Regions from separate parts of the Homo sapiens genome. Here region 1 is linked to region 2. Evidence: fine-mapped expression QTL. Tissue or cell type: whole blood. Region 2 holds a variant in brackets; the other region holds the start of a gene. All regions are shown on one strand. Distances are from middle to middle.

Region 1 (8,103 bases), 53 kb before region 2:
GGGGTGGGGCGGGGGGGTGGAACTGGCCATGACCACTTCCCTAGGCCTCATCCTCCACTGCCCATCTCTCACTTCCTGAACTAGGGCAGGGTCTCCAGGAAGCCACTCACCACAAACTTTGACAGCGGTACTTTAGATTAAACCCCTCCCTTTGTAGGCCCGTGGTTCCAGCAGAGAGGGTCGGAGACTCAGCAGATCAGCTGGGTAGAAGCGGCTAGGAGTTAGGCAGCCGACCCTGAGTTCTCATTGTGTCTGTCACTCTGTTACTTTAAATTCTGGTCCCTGGCGAACCCTTATTCAAAGTCTTCCGAGCCATCTCGAAGCCTCCACCAGAATCCTCCTGCCACCCTTCTGGGCTTTCCTAGGACAGCTCCACCCACCATCTGCCCCCTCCCTCACTTTCCCTACCCCTTGTCCCCGCCCCACTCCGCTTCCGACCTCCAGGCATAATTTACCTGCCGGAGGCTGGGGGAGGGGTGGACAGCCTTCCCAGCTGTGAGGCAGAGTCGGGAGGTCAGGGAGAAGGTGTGATTCATTGAGTCTGGCTGGAAGCAGGGGGAATTCCAGAGCAAGAGGGGGGTGGTCAGGGCTGCCCCTGTCATCCTATCTGTAGGATGGGGGTGGGCATAGGACATACCTGGGAGTCCCACGTCCTCAGCCATCTGCAATCTAGGGTAGGGCAGGAAAGCCTCCCTAACCAGAAAGTTTTTGCCAAGGTTTTCTATTTTCCCCTCCCTCTAATTCCCCACTCCTGCCCAATATCTAAAATGAAAAGCTTTGCACCTACAGTCCTTAGCAATGACATTAAATATCTCATGCTACCCCTGCAGAATTTGGTTGGAGAAATAGTTTATCGAACCTCTCTATAGTCTTTGCTAAGCATTCAACATACGTTATCTCACTGTACATTGCCATGATGCCGCATGTGGTAAGTATGATGACTAACTCCACGTTGGGTAAGAAACACAGCTCAAAGGAATTTAGCACCACATCAAAGTCCACAGGGCTAGTGAGCTGTCAAGCCAGGGATTTGAAACCAAGGTGTGTCCAACTCCAAACTCTGTTCCTCGATGCCACAGTGGGATGAACTGGGCTTCAAGTTAGAAAAGGCAGCGATGAAGAAAAATACCGCCTTCAGGCATCACCTCAAAAGTACCTTCCTCCTGGAAGCCTCCCTGGCCACCCTATCTAAACTGTCACCTCACCCCTTCCATGACAATTCACACCTACCTTCCCTATCATATTTTTTATTTCTGTTTATCACTAACACACTTGCTATTTCAATCTTGTTTATTGTCACTTCTGCTAAAGTCAGCTCCACTGGGTCAATAATTATTGTATATTTTCTTCACTGCTGTGTCTTCTGCATCTGGCATTCATACATAGTAGGTGCTAACTCCTTAACTATTAAATGAATGAATAGAGTACTTTAAAATAGAACTAAGGGGCATGAGTACTGGGAGGAAAAGGTGATCCGTCCATTCAGCAGAAGAAAGGAGAGATGAGAAAAGACGGTGTGGGAATCTGGCCAGAGGTGAGTTGTGGGGCCCAGATGAGCTTGACAAGAGGAAATGAGGATCTGCCAGGTCCGCTGGGGGCTCCAGTAGCCCCTTCCTCCTGGCAGTTGTGATTTCCAGCTGCCAGGGCCCCCGCTGGAGGGCTTCTGCTGAGGAGGGAGGATGGAGTAGGGCGGGTTTGCAGCCACGGAACAAAGGCCTGTGGACTTGCAGCTGGCCAGAGAGGCGGGACAGAGCAGTGGCCTGGGCCAGAGGGGCGGCCTGAGATGGGGGAGGGGGCACAGATGAGGAGCTGAAGACAGCCCTCAGTGCAGCTGCAAAAGCAACACCCTCCCAGAGTCCCTGCAACCCCCAACACAACAGAGAATAGCCAGAGGGCTTCACTTTTAACCCTCCAAGGCCAGGGCGGCCTGGGCTTGTGGCAGCACCCCTGGCTTACAGCTGGAGCCTTCACAAGGTTCTGGGAGCTGGGAGAAGAGAACGGGCAAGGCATACCTCTGCAACAGAGGAGCCTTCCCCCTCCAGCCCTGGTCATCCCGCAGGCCGTGGCCTTTGGCCTCTTCCAGCGTAAACAGTGACCGTGGGATAGCTGCGGATTTGGTAAGGCAAATGTTTACTCTGGGGCTGAGATATTAAGACCAGGGTGTTTTAAACATCCAACAATGGCTCCTGGTATCTAACGTCTCCTTGTGGCACACACGTGGGACATAGCCAGCAAATTGTAAAACCCTTGGGAGACTCCCTCCCGAGCCACTGTGAGCCCTTTAGTTTTAACAGGAGTTTATGGAGCACTTTCCACAAATGAGGCTTCCTTTGATCCTCACCACAGCTCCTATGAGGAAGAGCAGGCAAGTAATCCCACTTTATTTATGTGGAAACTGAGTCAGAAAAGATAAGTGAATTGGCCAGATCATGTTGGAGAAAACACAGATCAGACAATGAGGACATCTGACCTCTGGTTTCTACTTGGCCAATAGGGTCTAAGGCTGAAATCACCTCACCCCTCTGGGCTCTGCTGCCTTCACGAGTAAATGAAGTAGGCTAATCCAAGGGGCCCCCCAGCCCAAGTGACTCGCACTCTTCAACTCTACCAATCTTCCATGCTATGCAGAAGAGCCAGGTCTAAAACTCAGGCATAAACCCGTGCTGGACTATCAGGCCAGTGCTCTTTCCACTTCCCCTGCCATGCCACTTCTAATAAAAGGCAGTAGAAAAGCCCCCAAAGCAGCTCTTCAACAAATCACTCCCTCAGCAGCTAGGACTTGGCCTCTGGGTACCTCTTCCCCCAACTTCCTGCCCCATCCCCAGGGCAAGTTACCCAGGGAGCTAATGGGTTGTCCTATCTTCCAGGAAGGGAGTGGAGGACAGCAGGTGTCGAAAGGAGAAGTGAGGCCATTGCATCCAGGGGGCCAGCCCGGAACCACAGGGGAGAGATGTATAACAGAGAGATAAATGTACACTTTTGGTTCTCACTCCCTAGTTTCCTCCTGGGGAACAGCTGGGGTTTAATCACTCAGGATCCCATCCTTGTCCAACAAAGGATGGCCCGGAAAACCACACTGCTGAAGGCGAGGTGGCCGATGTGCTCAACGGGGAGGCCCTCCCCCGCTCCGGACTGTCATTGCCCTCCCTGCTTATTATTTCTTGAGCAAGGGCCATGTGACTGGGCTGCGTGCAGAGGCACGGCTGGGGAGACTCTGGGAACCCCCACTCCAGGGTTCCCCGTAAGGTGAACGCAGTGTGGGTCTCCTGCTGGGGCCCCCAGAGCAGGGGACAGGCACCTACATATGCCAACAGATTAGCGAGTGACCTCGAGGATCAAACTCTTTCGCGGCCTCTAACAACACCCTCCCCAAAAGCCACACCTCTCCAGCCTCCAACCATTCCATTCTCCCCTCCGTTCTTCCTTTTGTGTTCCAAAGGCGCCCCGAAGAGTCAAAGTAGCTATTTAACGCCTTAAAAATTTAAGCTTGCACGCCTTATACTGGCTTTCCAAACCAAAGGGCTGGGTGTAGGGGTGCGAAGAACCAAACCGACTTCAGGAGTGGACGAGGTCGAGGCAGCTGGTGGCCGGGCTTTCCGCTCCCCGCTTCTGGCCCCCACTCTCCTCCCTGCCGGACAGGTAGCCGAGATTCCCAACAGCGAGCACCGTGCGGCGCCAACCCGGAACAGGCTGCAGGCGCCTCCGGGGCTGGCAGGAGCCGAGGCTCGGGTCCTCGCGCAGAAGGGTCCACCCGCCAGGCCCACAGCTCCAGCCAAACACCAGCCCTCGGGCGCGCGCGGCCTCGCGGGCTTCCTGGATTTCAAACTGAGCCTCTCTGGAGCCGCCCGGCGCATTTGCCCCTTTTGTTTCCGGAGTGGAGGGAAAAAAAGACAGAAAAAGTCTCCCCATACGACCCTCCTGCGCTCGCGCACTCTGCGGCAGGGTGGCCCGGGAAGCAGCCAACACAGTTCCAGGCCCTCCTCGGTCGCCCCGGTCCTCACCCCGCAGGGGGCTGGCACGGGGGCCGCGAAGGGACTGGGGCCCCAGCGTGACTGCCGGCACCGCCGCTCAGCCTAATGCAGGGAGATAAGAGGGGAGAGAGGAGAATCAGGGGACACTCACCGAGCGGTAGCTGCCCCGCGGGCTCGGGACGCGCACGGCGTGCGGGGCTGCCCAGGTGCTGCCGCGACGCGGGCGCGAGTTTGAAAGTCGCTCTCTGAAGGGGCTGAGGCCGCCGACCGCTCCCGCCCACCGCCAGCCCCTCAGCTGGCCCGGACTCGGCCAGCTGCAAGCGCGGCCCCCGGAGACCCCAGGCAGCGCGCGGCTTGCCAGCGCCCGGCAGGAAGTCGAGCGGAGCCGGAGCTGCAGCGGGAGGGCAGGAGGGAGCGAGGGAGCGAGGGAGCGAGGGAGCGAGGGAGCGAGGGAGCGAGGGAGCGAGGGAGGGGCGGGCCAGGAATTTTTCCTGTGGGTGGAGACTCCAGCTCGCGGCTGCAGTCCAGCAATTGGCGGCTCTGCGGGGGCCGGGGCAACCTTCGCGGCGCGGCGAGCCAGAGCCGGGGTAAGGCTGCGGCGGCGGCGAGGCCTGGGCGCGGTTAACGATTAACGCCCGCAGGGTGATGAGCGCGCACCCCCGGGCAGCCTAGATGCTCTAGGATACCAAGACGCACGTGGTGGGGTCACCCTGGTGTCACAGACCTGCTATCACCGCCTCCCGAGACAGCATGGACTGCCAGAACGTACCCCTTGTATGGACAGGGAACACCGGGCCCTGCGAAGGGGGCTGAGGGCTTTCCCAAGTGAGTGACCAGCCGGGATCGATCTGGGGATCCTAATCCTACCAGAGCCGGCCGTGTCCGCTTTTCCAAGTCAGAAAGGCATGTCTTGAATTCCTCACCATAACTCGGTCCCTGTGACGCTTTACAGTGGTAAATGCAGACCTCTGAGAAGCTGACGGGAAAGAGATAAAGGAGACAACGTGAAGGCAACTCCACAAGGAACTGTTAAATAGGAAAAATAAAACACAGAAACCTGGATGATAGAGGACCCGTTTTTATAAAACAAAGAGAACCGTTTGTCTTTATGTCTCTGTATATGACCGTGTATGCATGGAAAGGTACACACCTGGAAACTGGGGGGCAAGGGGTGAGGATGGGGGACAGAGACATTCAATACATTTTGAGCAAGAGCATAAATCCAAAAACCCATAATAATTCATCAGTAAAGATCCTGAAGAACAACAAGCCCGGAGGAGGGAAGCCCAGAGTGGGGCTCCGGAAGAGGAACAACGCCCACTGGTTAGGCGCTATCACTAGTTCCTTGGGAGGAGGAATAGGACGCTGATATTAGAACCACGGGGTATATTTGTTATCCAGGTGTACAGCAAACGATTTCTAGAGGTATCATTTAAAACAAAACAAGCGCCCGCCCCAAAATGCTGCTCTGGGCAAATGCAAGCTCCAGGTGATCTACTGGGAGGGGAGAGGCGGGGCAGGCGCGGAAGGAAATGGCTTTCAGGTGACTTTGAAACTGGATCCTGGCGGAGGGTGGGGTGAAGGCAGCGTCCCGGCTCCTGCCTGCGGAGGAAGCGGTAGGCGCTCGGTCTGGCAGGCCCAGAAAGCGGGGCCCACATTCCTTAGGGAGGGAGGGTGTGTTGGAGGCTTGCAGAGCCCCAGACTCGCGGACCGTGAAGGTGAGAGCAGAGATTGCAGAAGAGGGGCTCGGAAATAGATCAACTTAGTTGGGGCTCCGCTAGACCCCGCCGGCCAGGGGAGAAGTGACAAGTCCCCCTTCTGGCCTTCCAGGACTTGTGGTCACCCCTTCCAACCTCAGGCTTTCACCTTTTTTTGTTTATGCTTTCTTATCTGATCACCTGAATCTTACGAATGCCTTCCGGTCCGCTTCAAATTCCAGCTTCCAAAGAAGCCCCCTGACTTAGCCACTTGTGAGCGACCCTTCACTCCTTAGCCAGGACACGTTACAGTGTTAGTGGCAGTCATAACTGTCCTTTAGTGAATGCTTACCATGCAGAGGGCCTGTGCTACACTCTTAACAAACTGTGTCCCTGGATCCTCACAGCCACCTTGCGAGGTAGGAGATATCCTAATCCCCATCTTGCAGACAGAACACTGAGGCTTAGGGGCAAGGAGCAACTTGGCAAAGATTACACAACCAGCAAAAGCAGTGTCGGGCAAGTGCCTAGATGGGTGTGTGCTTACTATGAGTGTGCTTACTATGTATTAGCCATTCTTCTAAGTACTTTACAAAAACAATTGCAGTAACAGAAAAGGAAACTGAGGCAAAGTCACACAGCTAGTGGGTGGTAGACCTGGAAGTCATAACAGGGAATTCTGCCCTTCACCATCACTGCTTCCAGTTTCTTTCTGACACTTGTTATGCCCAATTCACTTGATTATAATATATTGTTTCTATTAATAATTGTTTTAATTTATATCACCTACTTCCTAAAAAGATTGTAATCTCCCTGTGGTAGAAGTCATATAGGAAGCACTCAGTAAAACAATGCTGAATTCAACTGAAACAATCTAAAGAGTTTGTGAGAAATCGCACAGTCTCTCCTCCGATAATAAAACCCTGTGTCAAGGGCCAGGGGCTCCAGGCTGCAGCCCCTCCACAGCTCGGAGCCTCTTCCTACCAGTTCTTGTTGCAATGGCCTCACCCTGCTATTAAATCATTTATTATTATTATAATACCTTGTGTCTCAGCAATGCCTTTAATCCAAGATCTCAAGGTGTTCTAACAAATACAGGTGAACTCACTTTCACAGTACCCCAGCTGAGATGAGGAGATGGAGGTATTTTCCCAACTGTTTGGATGAGAAAACCAAGACAACAGAGAATTGAGATGATTCACTATGGAAATTAGTGGCAGGGTTTACTCCCCCATCTCTTCCCCTCCTCCTTCCTAATTCTTGGCTGCCAATACTTGCATGAAAATTTCAAATCCCAGAGACAAAAGCCATTGAGTTTTCACAATAAAGGACATTTCCAGACTGTCATTTCAGCTGCTCTATTGTGGCAGACCTCAGGAGAGGGAGGGAACGTAAGCCTAGTAAAGGTTCCCTGGGGCTCTGTGCTCCTGGCTCAGAGGAGCCATGCCTGGCTGGGATGGAGGAATGAAACCTCAAACATGGAGAAAATCCCCCTCAAAAGTGACCTGAAAAGCCCCACCAAGCTCTGAGATCTCAAAGCTTCCAGAGTTCCAAGTTGCATTTTAGCAACATTTCTCAAAAATGTGAGCCACATGCAACAAAGGAAAGAAAAAGATAAATTGGACTTCACCAAAATTTAAAACTTTTATGCATCAAAGGACATCAAGTGAAAAGACAACCCAAAAAATGGGGGGAAATTTTTGCAATTCATATATCTGATAAGAAACTTACGGAAATACATAAAGAACTCCTACAATTTAATAAAGGCAAATAACCCAGTTTAAAAATGGACAAAGGATCCGAATATACATTTCTCCAAAGAAAACATACAAATGGCCAATAAGCATGAGAAAAGATGCCCAATAGTGTTCGCCATCAGGAAAATGCAAATTAAAAACATAGTGAAATACCATTTCATACCCACTGGGATGCCGATAATCAAAGGCAGGTAATAATAAATGTTGGCCAGGATGTGGAGAAATTGAAACCCTCTTGCACTGCTGGCAGAAATGTAAAGTGGTGCAGCTGCTTTGGAAAACAGTCTGGCAGTTTCTCAAAAGGTGTTTCTTGGTTTTGTTTTTTTGAGACAGGACCTCACTGTGTCACTCAGACTGGAGTGCAGTGGCGCAATTCAACAGGTTAAACATAGATTTACTACTTGACTCCACAATTTCACTGCTAGCTATATACCTAGGAGAAACGAAAACACCTGTTCATACAAAAAGTTGTACACAACTGTTCATGGCAGCATTAATTCATGGCTAATACATAAAAACCAAAAAGTAGAAACAACCAGGCCAGGAGTGGTGGCTCACATCTGCATTCCCAGCACTTTGGGAAGCCAAGGTGGGAGGATCACTTGAGCCCAGGAGTTCAGGACCAGCCTAGTCAACATAACAAGACCCCACCCCACCTCTACAAAAAAAAAATTTTTT
Region 2 (8,103 bases):
AGGAATTGGGGCAAAGGGAAAATAAGGGTAAGAGCTTCCCAGTTAGTGCTTGGGCAGGGCAGATCAGCTCCATCAGAAAACAAGCGCTTGGGGCACACTGCTAGCACTTTCAAAAGGCAGCTTCCAATGCAGATGATTCCAATTCTACACCTTGGCCAAGCTGCCTCTCCAAATGGAGCAGGGCACGTGGGCTTCACTGTATACGCAGACCACGTGGAAGCTGACACCATAACCTTACCCACCGCAGGCTTCTCATGCACTCACAAACCTTCAGCTGGGCCGGTCCTTAGAATTATCTAGGGCAACCCTCTTGATTTCCAGATGACGAAAGTAAGGCTCAAAGAGGTTAAGTGTCCTGCGGAGACACACAGAGCATGTAAGTAGCAGAGCTGATTCACACCCATGTGTCCCACCGACAGCCTAGTTTCTCCGGGTTACCACACCGCCTCTCATTGCCGTAAGTCAGCTTCCCTTTACTTATTTGGGAAACGTATGGGCTGTATGAAATCATTATGTTCTCATTCTTTTTAAACTGTTCCAGTAGTTATGCAGTTTCAAGGTTCTGAAGGCTAAAAGTACTATTATGTGGTATTAAACAAGGTAGACATTAACTGTGACACGGGAGGGATGTCACAAATCCCATTGCTGAAGCTGAAGCTGTGTTACTTATTTTAGAAAACTTTCCATTAGTTGACTTCCCAAATAGAAGTGTTGCTTCCTGGTTTCCCTTGGTGATTTTTTAAATTGTGCTTAAACATGAGTGTCCAGTTGAGACTACATGCAATTCCAGCATAACCAGGCTTGGTAATGACCAGAGCTATTAACCTGTGATGGACCTTGTATCAGCCAAATATTTACCTAGCTCATGCTCACAACAGGTTGGTGGGACAGATCCAACGGCTCCTACTTCAGCTGGGTTTCCGTTTGGATCTTAATGTGAACACAGCTGCTTGGTTTTATTTATGTACATAGATTTTTCTGACATATTTCATCCTTTCCTAAACCAACTACCCTCGGAGACATTGCAACTTGCTCTCTTGCCTCCATGAGTCACCTAAAAACACACTGGTGGTTTCCAGGACTTCCTCAATGTCTTTCTAGCTGTGTCTGGTGTAAGCTTATGGGCTTTCCCTGGCACAAGTTTGACAGATCTACTCACTCATCTTTAATTCAGTTCTACAAACACTGCAGATGTGGTAGAGGATGGTCGTGGGCTCTAGAACAAAACAGCCCTGGTCTAAATCTCAGCTCTTACTTCATAACCTCCAGCAAGTTACTCAACCTCTTCATGCCCCATTTTGTAATCTAAAAAATGGAAATGATAATATAACCAACCGCATTAGGTGATTATGAGAATTAAGAGTTACTATGCGTATCAGCCCTGGAAGAGTGTCTGACACATGTTGTGAATGCTCAGTACATTACTGACAAAATTCCTGCCTACTCCAAGTCAGGCATTGCCAGGCTTTGGGGATATAAGGGTGAATAAAACACAGATCCTGCTTTCAAGAAGCTTGTTCAGAGAACACACACACACACAAAATATACAGTCCAGGCACGGTGACTTACGCCTGTAATCCCAACACTTTGAGAGGTCGAGGTGGAAGGATTGGTTGAACCCAGGTGTTTGAGACCAGCCTGGGCAACAAGCAAGACCCTGTCCCTACAAAAAATTTACAAATTAGCCAAGCATGGTGGCACACGCCTGTAGTCCTGGCTTCTCAGGGGGCTGAGGTGGGAGGATCACTTGAGCCTGGGAGGCCAAGGCTTCAATAAGCCATGATTGCACCACTGCACTCCAGCCTGGGCAACAGAGTAAGACCCTCTCTCTCTCTCTCTCTCTTTCTCTCTCTCTATACACACACACACACACACACACGCACACACACACGTGTATGTGCGTGTGTGTGTGCATGCACGTGTGTATGGCAACATTACATATTCTTATCATGGACTTTTATTTCTTGATTTTTTTGGAGGTGGGAGTCTTGCTGTGTCACCCAGGCTAGAGCGCAGTGGTGCAATCTCAGCTCACTGCAACCTCTGCCTCCCGGGTTCAAGCGATTCTCCTGCCTCAGCCTCCCAAGTAACTAGGACTACAGGCATGTGCCACCATACCTGGCTAATTTTTTTTTAATTTTATTTTTAGTAAAGACAGGGTTTCACCATGTTGGCCAGGCTAGTCTCGAACTCCTGACCTCAAATGATCCACCTGCCTCGGCCTCCCAAAGTCCTAGGATTACAGGCGTGAGCCACCATGCCCAGCCTATCATGGACATTTTAAAAGAAGATAGTAGCATAGCATTTTTGTGTTTCATATGGAAACTTGTTGCTATATTATTACCACTGAATACCAGCATTTTCATCTAGAATTTGTTAAATGTCTCTATCCATTAATTCACCAACATGTATTGAGCACCTGCTGTATTCTAGGCACCATACTAGGCACTTAGGATATACATGTGATACTGACACAAAATGTTAGTATATCATTCTTCACTGCCTTCCCTCTTCCTACACTTCCTAGGCCTCACTCAGGAGTGCCTGTGATTGCCTACCTGGTTCTTGGGGCTTCAGGGTAAGTGGGAGGGTGGAGAGTCAGGAGAGGTTGATTCGATCTATATAACGGAGGTGGCGAGGGGGTAACAGGAGAGATGTGAAAATTTCAGTTAGTTTGAAAGAAGAGATTTGGGGAAGCAATTGCTGTGATGAGAAAACTGGGAAAATTGAAGAGTGAAGAGGAACTTTTGAACTTCTACTGGGCATTCTGCAATGTCTTTCCTTCTTCCCATACTTCTTCGGTAGAGACTTCAATGGCTTTTCAGTGCTTTTGGATGTCAAACTGGTGCTGCTTTTGAATATGATGCCATGCTGTAGCAGCCGGCTTCTGAGAAAGCCCTCAGTGAGCCTTGCCTCCTGATGTTCATGCTCTTGTGTCTTCCCCTCCCACACTGAGTTGGGATGAATTATGTAATAATAGGATATTGCAGAAAAGAAAGAGTTGAACTTCCAATGCTATAACCCTCACTGTGGCTTCCATCTTGCTCAGTTGGATCACTTGCTCTCTGGTAAGTCAGCTGCCATGTTGTGAGGATACTCAAGCCTTCCCATGGAGAAGTCCACTTGGGGAAGAACTGAGCTCCCACCCCCACTCCCTGAGCAAGCATAATTTGCCAGCGATGTGAGTGAGGCTACTTAGAAGTGGATCCTACAGCCCTGACCAACATTGTGCTATGGCTTCATGAGACCCCTGAGTCAGAACCACTCAGCTAAGTCATTTCCAAATCCCCAACCTGTGAGAGATAAAAAATATTCACTGTTACTTAAATCTCCATGTTTTGGAGTAATTTGTTACACAGCAGTAGATAAGCAAAACACTGGCCATTAGTTGGCCAACTTTACTGAGGTTACCCAAATATAACCTGAGTTTCCCAGGCCACCTCAGCCTATGGGAACAATAGGGGACACAGCAAGAATAACACTCAGATTCCATGGCTGGGCACGATGTCTCATGCCCTTAATCTCAGCACTTTGGGAGGCTGAGGCAGGAAGATTGCTTGAACACAGGAGTTCAAGATCAGCCTGGGCAACAGAGCAAAACCCCAGATCTACAAAAAAAATTAAAAATTAACTGGGTGTGGTGGCACACACTTGTAATCCCAGCTACTCAGGAGGCTGAGGCAGGAGGATGACTGACTTGAGCCCAAGAGGTCAAGACTGCAGTGAGCAGTGAGTGTACCACTGCACTCCAGCCTGGGTGACAGAGTGAGACCCTGTCTCATACAAAACCCCAAAACTCAGATTTCACTGGCTCTTGCCTTATCTGCTGAAGCCAGACCTATACCTGCAATCTTCTGTTAATCAACCATCCCACACATCCCACCCCCATAGAAAAATAAGAAGTATGTTTGTGAATCATGAGAAGAGGGACCAGTCTCACGTGTATGTGTGTGTGTGTGTGTGTGTGT[A/GTGTA]CAAGACTGTTCTCCCTGAGTGCTGTTTTGCTCTCTCACCCAGTACTTCCTATGGTTTTCAAGATACCACCATCTCCTGCCAGGAGATGGTGTTGCCACTGGAACTCGTGCCCCTGCCAAGCACCAAAGTCTCCCATGGGCCATGGCCCACTTTCCAGCTATTCACCCTGCAGAACTCACTGGACCAAAGCTGGAGCTGCTCTATGTTGAAGTGGTAGCAAGATGCTTCTCTCCTCTCCAATGCACTGCCCTTGCCCTGGAGGTCTGTAGAGATTTTACTGAGATCTCACTTTTTACTCACAGCCATCTCTCTCCTTAGGTCTCAGACATGTGTCCACAGGTTGGGCAGGGACAGAATAAAAATATTTATATGTTGTCATCAGGATTCTCACTAACCTTTAGTGACCCAGAATTTGTGACTGGGCTAGGCTCAACATGGCTACAGGCAGCTCTAGGCTCATATCATGTCAGTTTGGCCATCCTAAGGAGGGAGAGGACTTCTTGCTTTAGAAGACGTAACTCCCAATAAAGAGCTCTGATTGGCTAGGCTTGGGTCTCATGCCTGCCTCTTGGGCTGAAGTGAGGGGGAAGAAAGGGAACTGTGATTGGCAGCCTCATCAGGATCACCTTCCCCAAGGGAAGGAGGCCTGCACTAACCCTCAAATGTGGGTAGGTAGCAAGGGAGGGGGAGAAGCTGGTGGATAAAAACAACAGCTTTCAGGCTAGGAGCAGTGGCTCATGCCTGTAATTCCAACACTTCGGAGGCCAAGGTGGGAGGATTGCTTGAGGCCAGGAGTTGGAGACCAGAGGCCAGGAGTTGGAGACCAGACTGGGCAACATAATGAGACCCCTATCTCTACAAAAATAAAAATAAAAATAAAAAAATTAGCTGGGTGTGGTGGTGCAACTGTAGTCCCAGCTACTTGGGAGGCTGAGGCAGGAGGATCACCTGAGCCCAGGAGTTCAAGGCTGCAGTGAGCTATGATCATGGCACTGCACTCCAGCCTGGGCAACAGAGCAAGATCCTGTCTCAAAACACACACACACCCCAATAAAACAGCTTTTTGCTGTACCCCCATTTCCAGACCTGCTTAGGCAGCAGTGGCCCCAGCAATCCCAGCCATTCAAGGATACAGTCGCTGCCTCTGCGGAGCTTGCTGCACCCAGACTCAGGCTCAAGTGCAGCACCTTGTTTGACTCGTCCAGTGCACACCTTCCTGAGACGAGTTCAAGGGGCGGGCTGCAATGACTTCTGCACCTACATTATCATCCTTCTTCTAAATTCCCCTGAACGTTCCCCTCAGAGTTGCCTTCCCCTGATTCGCCCCCGATCTGTTCCAATTCTCCAAAAGTTGCTCCCACAGAATGAACTAAAAAAGCATGCGCAGATGCATAATCTCCAGCCCAGTCCTCAGCTTTCTCAATCAGCTGTGGTCATTTTAGGTCGGGGCGCTCTGGAGCCCAGGTGTTATCAGTTCACGTAACGCAGGTGTGGCAGCCTCCCCCTTCCCACCTCATCCCTTGTCCCTTTGAGGTGAGCAGAGAATTGCTCTTTCCTGACCAGGGACATCTTCTCTGCTGACCGCAAACTATCAGTCCTGTGCTGCCACCACCCCCGATGACACAGGGGCTGTGACATTTCACCAGTGTCCCTTTAGGATGCCTGACGGGGTTTTCTCTGTGAACCTGCCTTGCTATCCTCCCCAGGGGGCTGAGGTGATGTCAGCCATCCTTTGTGGATGGCCAGGTGGTTCTTCGAAGATCCGGTGCCGTGGGAGGAGCAGGAGTTTCAACTACACAACGCTGTCATCGCCTCAAAAGCAACATAAGGGGAGAGAGTTGCTGCACAAGCTGCCCAGGGCTGCAATAACAAAGTACCACAAACTGGGTGGCTTACAACAGACATTTACTGTCTCACAGTTCTAGAGACAGGAAGTCCACACTCAAGGTCCCAGCGGGGCCATGCTCACTCACTCGGAAGGTGCTCGGGAGGGATCTGTTCCAAGCCTCTCTTCCTTGGCTCTAGTTCCTTGGTGTGTGGCAACATCACTCCCATCTGCACGTGGTGTTCTCCTGTGGACATGTCTGTGTGCAAATTCCCCCACCACCCTACCCTTTTTTTTTTTTGATACAAAGTTTCACTCTTGTCGCCCAGGCTGGAGTGCAATGGCACAATCTGGGCTCACTGCAACCTCTGCCTCCCGGGTTCAAGTGATTCTCCTGCCTCAGCCTCCTGAGTAGCTGGGATTACAGGTGCCCACCACCATGCCCAGCTAATTTTTGTATTTTTACTAAAGAGAGAGTTTGACCATATTGGTCAGTCTGGTCTTGAACTCCTGACCTCAAGTGATCCGCCCACCTCAGCCTCCCAAAGTGCTGGGATTATAGGTGTGAGCCACCACACCCGGCCAATTTCCCCTTCTTAGAAGGACACCAGTCATAGTCAATTAGAGTTCACACTAATGATCTCATTTTAACTTGTTTAACCCTATCTCCAAAAACAAACAATACAAAAAGACCCTGTCTCCAGATAGGGTCACATCATGAAGTGCTGGTGGTGAGGATTCCAGCCTATCCTCTGTGGAAGAAACACAATTCAACCCATAAGAACTGCAATCCTGGGCCTTCAAAATAAGGTGGTGGGGCTGTAGGCTGCTTTCTGTCTTTCTCTTTTAACTTCTCTTCTGTACTCCAAGTTTTCCTCTTTCCAGGCAACTGACTTTTCCATATCCCCTGGTCCAGGGTTCCTTAGCCCCTCCTTGGCTACAGCAGGAGGTCTCTTGTGGGATTCTTTCTTCTGCCAGTGGAGGCCCCTGTGCTGAGCCATTGTGATGCTGCAGTGCGAGGTGACTGTATGGTTGGGGATCACTATGGAGTTCAGTCTTCTCACCAGCCAGAGGAGCGACAGATGTGTTCACCGCTTTTCCCAAAAACGTGACAAACCATTCCAAGATAAGCACTGACCAGTCTCAGTGCTTGTTGGCTTGTTTGTTTGGTGCAGAGTTGAGTTAATCATTCTCTCCAGTTCAAGGGAATTTCCATCAAGGGTCATCGCTACCTCCTCTTCTTTTTTTTTTTTTTTTTTTTTTTTTTTTTTTTTTTTTCGAGACAGAGTCTCACTCTGTCGCCCAGGCTGGAGTGCAGTGGCAGGATCTTGGCTCACTGCAACCTCCACCTCCCAGGTTCAAACGATTCTCCTGCCTCAGCCTTCTGAGTAACTGAGATTACAGGTGCCCACAAACATGCCCAGCTAATTTTTGTATTTTGTTTAGTAGAGACGGGGTTTTGCCGTGTTGGCCAGGCTAGTGTTAAACTCCTGATCTCAGGTGATCTGCCCGCCTTGGCCTTCCAAAGTGCTGGGATTACAGGCATGCACCACCATGCCCGCCTAATTTTTTGTATCTTTAATAGAGCCAGGGTTTCACCACGTTGGCCAGGCTGGTCTTGAACTCCTGACCTCAGGTGATCCATTCGCCTCAGCCTCCCAAAGTGCTGGGATTACAGGCATAAGCCACCATGCCCGGCCTACCTCCTCTTCTGCTTGGTCTTTTCCTTTCCTCATCAATCGTCTCTCCCAACCCTGCCTCCTTCCAAAGGCACCCACTCTGGGGTTTGCTGCAGGTCCTTGTCAAGTAGATAGAGGTTTTTTGTTTGTACTTGTAATTTATATAAATAGTGTAGTGTTCTAGATGGTATGTGTCTCACCTGTATCATTCTATTGATGTTCCTCATGTTAATATGATTTTATTCCCACTCCTTGTGTACCATAAGCTCTGACATTTGTTAGGTTAAATAACATTTTATTCTTTCTGGACCAGTTTACATTACACGAGCCTTAGAAGTCACTATAATTGATACTCTCCTCCACATCCTGAAGGGGCAATGCTCAGTCTGATTCGATTGACTTCTCATTCTACATCTTTCCACCCATCTCCCTTGGAAAGGGCAATGGGGCCTTTCCCACTTCACCTCATGTGGCCCAGACACTTAAAAATGCACTGCAGTTGGCCGGGCACGGTGGCTCACACCTGTAATCCCAGCACTTTGGGAGGCCGAGGCGAGCAGATCACGAGGTCAGGAGATCGAGACCATCCTGGCTAACACAGTAAAACCCTGTCTCTACTAAAAATACAAA

Evidence for each region. PIP is the estimated chance that this variant, and not a neighbour inherited with it, causes the effect.
Region 1: PLEKHG3 starts here. The variant in region 2 is fine-mapped to the expression of PLEKHG3 in whole blood (INTERVAL, PIP above 0.99).

Annotation. Positions count from the first base shown.
Region 1 is chr14:64,700,724-64,708,826 of GRCh38, reverse strand. It overlaps PLEKHG3 (pleckstrin homology and RhoGEF domain containing G3), which reads right to left and starts at 4,403. Exons shown (of 17, transcript NM_001308147.2): 1 at 4,123-4,403. RefSeq lists enhancers at 1-389, 5,623-6,124.
Region 2 is chr14:64,647,402-64,655,504 of GRCh38, reverse strand. No RefSeq gene overlaps it. Among named protein-coding and RNA genes, the nearest start is that of PLEKHG3, 53 kb to the left of the region's middle. The variant A/GTGTA (reference allele first, on the strand shown) is at 3,969.